Regions from separate parts of the Homo sapiens genome. Here region 2 is linked to region 1. The links come from fine-mapping of genetic effects on gene expression. A gene starts in region 1. The other region holds a variant in brackets. All regions are shown on one strand. Distances are between the middles of the regions. Region 1 holds the start of PPP1R16A (protein phosphatase 1 regulatory subunit 16A). Region 2 overlaps ARHGAP39 (Rho GTPase activating protein 39).

Evidence for each region. PIP is the estimated chance that this variant, and not a neighbour inherited with it, causes the effect.
Region 2: its variant is the best candidate, but not a certain one, in a credible set for the expression of PPP1R16A in whole blood (TOPMed, PIP 0.79).

What each region holds. Positions count from the first base shown.
Region 1 is chr8:144,476,534-144,479,431 of GRCh38, forward strand. PPP1R16A (protein phosphatase 1 regulatory subunit 16A) reads left to right here and starts at 1,449. Exons shown (of 12, transcript NM_001329443.2): 1 at 1,449-1,594. RefSeq lists an enhancer at 1-450 and a silencer at 1,325-1,754.
Region 2 is chr8:144,620,625-144,623,522 of GRCh38, forward strand. The region is part of intron 1 of ARHGAP39 (Rho GTPase activating protein 39); the gene reads right to left. Among named protein-coding and RNA genes, the nearest start is that of ARHGAP39, 64 kb to the right of the region's middle. The variant C/T (reference allele first, on the strand shown) is at 1,508.

The DNA of each region.
Region 1 (2,898 bases):
AGGCCAAGGGCCCCCAGACACACGGGGGCCCAGGGATATGCTTTTGCCCTTCACTCTGAGAATTCAGCTTTTCTTGTGCAGCCTCCACCATGATAACCTCAAAGGGCTGAAAATCTGCAGCATACGGTGGGGTCCAGCACACCCTGAGGTGTGGAGGGGAGGGACAGGCAGCAAGTGTCCAGGAGGAGGAGGCCTGGGCCGCAAGGGGCCTTGTATGTGGGGTACCACACTGCTCCTGCCCCCCACACCCCCGGTCGGGTGGTGCCCCTTTTCCTTCTATCTCTGACTCTCCCCTCAGACGCCACGTGGTTTCCCTCAGGACTCCTGCCACCACCTCTCTGCTGTGTTCCCTAGGTTATGGCTGCACAATCCTGTGCCTCATGAGGCTAATACTTGTGGCCACTTCACCCCATTCGGTCAGCAAGGCGTCGTTCTTTCCTACAAGTGTTTGTTGTTGTTGTTGTTTTGAGACAAGGTCTCACTCTGTTGCCCAGGCTGGAGTGCAGTGGTGCGATCTGGGCCCCGTGCAGCCTCCACCTCCCCCGCTAGGGCGATCCTCCCGACTCAGCGTCCCGGGACTACAGGCGTGCGCCACAGAGCCCAGCTAATTTCTTAATTTTTGGTAGGGACCGGGCCTGCCTATGTTGCTCAGGTTGGTCTCCCGGGCTCAAGTGACCCACTGGCCTCGGCCTCCTCCCAAAGTGCTGGGATCACAGACGTGAGCCACCGGGCCGGGCCTTTCCCATAATTTTTTTTTTTTTTTTGAGACGGAGTCTCACTCTGCCGCCCAGGCTGGAGTGCAGTGGCGTGATCTCGGCTCACTGCAAGCTCCGCTTCCCGGGTTCATGCCATTCTCCTGCCTCAGCCTCCCGAGTAGCTGGGACTACAGGCGCCCACCACCACGCCCGGCTAATTTTTTTGTATTTTTAGTGGAGACGGGGTTTCATCAGGTTAGCTAGGATGGTCTCGATTTCCTGACCTCGTGATCTGCCCGCCTCGGCCTCCCAAAGTGCTGGGATTACAGGCGTGAGACACCGCGCCCGGTCTCCCGTAAGTTTTAAGGCACCCCCCTCTCCACTGGCGCTTCCTTGGTGGGGCGCTGGAGGCTCCCCAAGTTCTGACCGCTCTTCTCCGACCGCACTGTCCTGGGCCCGAAACCACCCCCAAAGCTGCCACCCATTCCGCTGGCGCCCGTCCCGTTGCCCGCGATGACTCGGTTTTGTCCAGCATAAATCAATGACCACCGTCCCGGGAGCCTTGGAGCACTTTGAGCCATTCCCGTCCCACCCACGCCCCAAGGAGGTCCCAGCCGCGGAGGACTCGCCCGGCCGCCCGCAGCTGTCCGCGTTGGCCCCCACCCCCGACCGTCCCTCCCCAGGCCCCGCCCCCGACATTTCCTCCTCCCAGGCTCCGCCCCCGGCTCCCACGGGGCACCGCGGCTTCCGGCTATGGGTACCGCGGGCCGGAAGTGTAGCGTTGCCATGGCGAGGGCCGGGTGCGGGGCCCGCCCCCGCAGCGCCTCAGGGAGCGCGGGGCCCACTGACCCGCGGAAGCCAGCGGACCCACTTGTGCGGCGGTCGGCGCGGGGCGCGAGGTGAGGCGCGGACTCCCGGGTCCTGCGGCGGGAGCGGAGCGAGGGAGAGGGGCCCCGGCCAGGGAGAGCAGTGGCGGGCCCGGGAAGGAGGGGCACTGGGTCGACACCGAGAGAGGAGGCCGGGCCGGGGAAGGATGAGGCAGAGGAGAGGGAGGAGGCCGGGAAGGGCGGGAGGAGGAGGAGACCGAAGGGAGAGAGGAGGCTGGCGACGGAGGAGGCCGGGGAGGGGCCCTCGGGAGACGCGGCTGCCGGCACGCGGGCGCCCAGGGCACAGGTCCCGCCGGGCCGCCTTGGGCGTTGCTGGCTGAGGCCCAGGGCAGCAGGTGCCAACGGTCAGGAAAGGCAGGGAGCCGAAGGCTGCCGGTGGGCGCTTCGCGTTTTGTTCCAAGGCGAAGGTGTGTGGATTCTCCGCAGCCCGTCGGTCAGGTAGACAGCTCCGGAATTGTCTTCATTTTCAGATGAGGAAATCGAGGCCGCAGAGAAGGGACTTACCCAAACTTAAGCTTTGTGTGGGCCTTGGAGCTAGGCTGAAGGAGAAAGTGGAGTCTCACTGGGGCAAGTTCCTTCAACTTTCAGGGATTCAAATGACCTCACTTGTAGTGCGGGGCGTCCGGACCACCCCTCAGGAATTGGGATCAGGGCAAGAATTACTAACTAAGCAAGCACCCCGCCTGGGAGGGAGCGTCCAGGACTGGTGTGGGCCCCTGTCTGTACCAGAGCGGAGGCCCGGGGCACGGTGGGATTAATTTCCATGGGTGCAGAGAGGGGAGCCGTGTACGGAGTCATTCTAGGCTTAGGGGAGACAGAGCAAAGTTAGCCTTCCCCAAACCTCTGTGCCTTCCTTTTCTTCCTGGATTCCTACCTGGGGGTGGAGGTGGAGGCGGGGGTACCGCTGCCTTTCTCAAAGTGTGTCTAGTCCAGCAGTGAGCCCTCCTGGGCGTCTTGGCGCCCCAGTTGCTTCCTGGACGTATTGGGGTTTCTCTGGGAGAAGGGTCTTGCCTGCAGTACCCTGGGCCTCCTGAAGAGGCCTCTGGTTGCGCTGCCTGATTCAGGGACCCAGAGCCACGACTCGCCGAGAGGAGCTCCGGCGGCGTGCGGCTGGGTTGCCTGAGGGGCTGGGGGCTGCCTGGTGGACTTGCACACATGCTGGCTCCATACCTGTCACTGTGGTGGACGCTCAGAGCTCTACAGGGCCAGCTGCCTGCCCCTGCCCCAAGTCCCCCGGGCTGGGGTTGGGATGGGGGTGGCTTTAGGGGGTCCTTCCCCCTCCTGGTGCTCGAGCTGGATTTCCTCCCTGTTGGCTG
Region 2 (2,898 bases), 140 kb after region 1:
CCACTGCTCAAGCAGCCCTGCCATCTGCCGAGTTTGCATCCCTTGCAAGAGTGATGGCTCCAAACCCAATTCAGGTCCAGACCGCCCTCTCTGACCCCTGACCCAGTGGGCTGCCCTGAGCACCGCCTGTGCCCATCCACCTGCGTCTCCAGGACAGGCGCCTACGTGTGAGAAGATGCTGGGACAGGCAGGGACTGTGAGTACAGAAGAGGGGCCGTGAGGACCGGCAGGAATCCCTGGGGCCAAGCTCCTGAGGTGGCCACTGTGCCCTCGAGGTGAAGGTGCCGGGAAGGAACTGGGAAACTGAACAGCAACTGGAAAACGCCAGGCACAGACCCGTCCCTTGGCAGCCCCGCTGTCACCAGCCTGTGAAGGCCTGCTTTGCAGGAGGCACATGGTTGGAGGGGGCCAGACTCACCACCCAGAGCCCCAGTTGGCAGCTGTGCTGGTGCTGTCCTAGCCCCCATCACAGGGTGGCCCAAGCCCCAGCCTGCAGCTGCCTGCCCTGTTAGCATGACATCACATAAACTCTGAGCAGTCCCTGCCTTCAGCCTGGACTCTGCAGGCCAACCAGTGCCCTCTCAGAAGTTGTGCAAAGGGGCAGCAGGCCAGGCCAGCACAAGCTGCATCCTGCCAGGTCTCCCTGATGAGGGCTCTGGGCTCTAGAACAGAAACCGCCCACTTCCCAAGTTTTCCACGGCCCCCAGGGCTTCCAGGCCAACAGAGGCCCTCAAACGCAGCTTGCCAGTTCCCAGGGGTGGGAAAACCACAAACCCCAGGAAGAGACAGTCCCATGGCTTCATATCAACACGACAGGGTCCGGAGTCAAGGTGCCACCCAGAGAAGAGGTTCTGAGGCAAGAGGCGGGAAGGGCTGGGGGGCAGGGCCTGGCAGGTGGGAGGAAGACAGTGGTGAATGTAATTGACCACTGGTTAAAAGCTCATGTTGTTGGGAGGCTGAGGCAGGCAGATTGCTTCAGCCCAGAAGTTCAAGACCAGCCTGCGAAACATAGTGAAACCCCATCTCTACGAAAAAATACAAAAATTAGCAGGGCGTGGTGGTGCACATCCATAGTCCCAGCTACTCAGGAGGCTGAGGTGGGAGGATGGCTTGAGGCCCTGAGGTAGAGGCTGCAGTGAGCCAAGATATCGCCACTGCACTCTGCAGCCTGGGCGACAGGAGTGAGACCCTGTCTCAGAAATAAAATAAAACAAAAGCTCATGCTCATGTTCTCCTAAGGGATAAAACTACAGTTTCAGGCAAACAAGATGTGGTCGGCTCAGTGCGGGCCGCACACGCTCAGGTACTCCTCAGAAGAGCTGAGTGACTGCGACTTGGGTAGGAAGACTCAGAATGCACAATGTTAAGGGTGACAAAGAAAATAATCAAATCAACTGGAAAAACACAAAGGAGGAGAAACTTTCATTTACCCCACAGAAAGCAGGAAAGAAAAAGAGGAAAGGGACAGACACAGAAAACACACACAAGACTGAGCCCCCCACGGCCT[C/T]GTGCCAGCAGCGGGACACAGGCAGACCGCCTCTGCCTCGATGGGGTCTGCACAGGCCCAAGGTGAGGGGTCCCGGGCAAAGCGTGGGGGCCTTGGGGCACCAGAGGAGCGGAGGCTGAGTGGCCAAGGCTGAGGTGAGCTGCCTCTGGGAGGAATCACTTCCAGTTTCTTAACGTAGGTTCCAGAAAAACTTCAGCAATGTCCTCACACCCCCATGGCCATGTCAGCAGCCCCACCCGCCACAGGCTTCCTTCTGTGAAGCCTCCAGCCAAGTCCAAGGCTAAACCACAACAAGCAGCAGAAGGCATGGCACCTCCCAGATACTCCGGGCTCTGCCACAATGACCCGAGGGCCAGAGCGGCTGTGCCCGGAGCCGCCCTCCCAGGAGAGGAGGCCCAGTTCTGGTGGGAGAAAAACACTCCAGCCTCAGGTGCGAGCCCAGCCCACAGCACCGACAGGAGTCAATGTATTCAGAGTGGACACTTGCGTTCTGTCAGAGTAAACTATGCAGCTTTGACCAGACCTTTAATGAACAAACAAGCATTACTACCAGGTAAGATATATTTTTAAAAACTTTAAAAATCTATCACTGGGTTGGCAAGAACGTTCAGAACCTTAGAGAACAAAACCTAAGTAAAAGCAGGAACCTGGAAAAAGGAAGGCCCCGCGCAGGAGGGCCCTGGCCGGCAGCTGGCCTGCGCCCGCTCCTTTCACAGCTTTGCAGAAGTCAGGGGAGAGAGGCTGGGCCAGGCCTGGTTGCTGATCCAGTTACTGCCGGGGGACGCCCCAAGGCTGAGACTGGGAGGGTTTAGGTGAACAAGGAAGAAAGCCACCATCCAGCCCTAGGGGAAGCTCTTATCACAGTCCTGGCCCCACTCGGTCAGGACCCACAGAAACACAATATGCTGCATGCAGGCTGCAACGGGGAGGGCAAGTCCTGTGTGGACGGAGTGCTCAGAATAAAATGTTCCTGGATCTTTGAATCGTTTGGAGGAGGGCAAAAATACTAATTTTAGACTTCAACAAATTAATTCTGCATGTTAGAACATCCGAGGCAACCACTATGAAGCCAAGTGAGCAAATTCCAACCCAGTAGAGAAGAAAAAGAAACAAAAATAATCCAAAAGAAGTCAAGAAACGAAAAAGCAACTGGTCCTCAAATGACAGAGTACAAGGAAAGATGGTGGAAATAAATTTAAATATAATAATTACAGTAATGTAAATGGACCAATAGTCTAGTTAAGACAAAGACTGTCAGCAAGATTTTAAAGATCTTGGTAAAGATCTATACCAAACACATCTAAAGTATAAGGGCAGGAAATTCTAAAAGTCAAGAATGGAAGAGACAGAGCTGATGCGGCTCCATCGAGGCTGGCTCTGTGGATACAAGG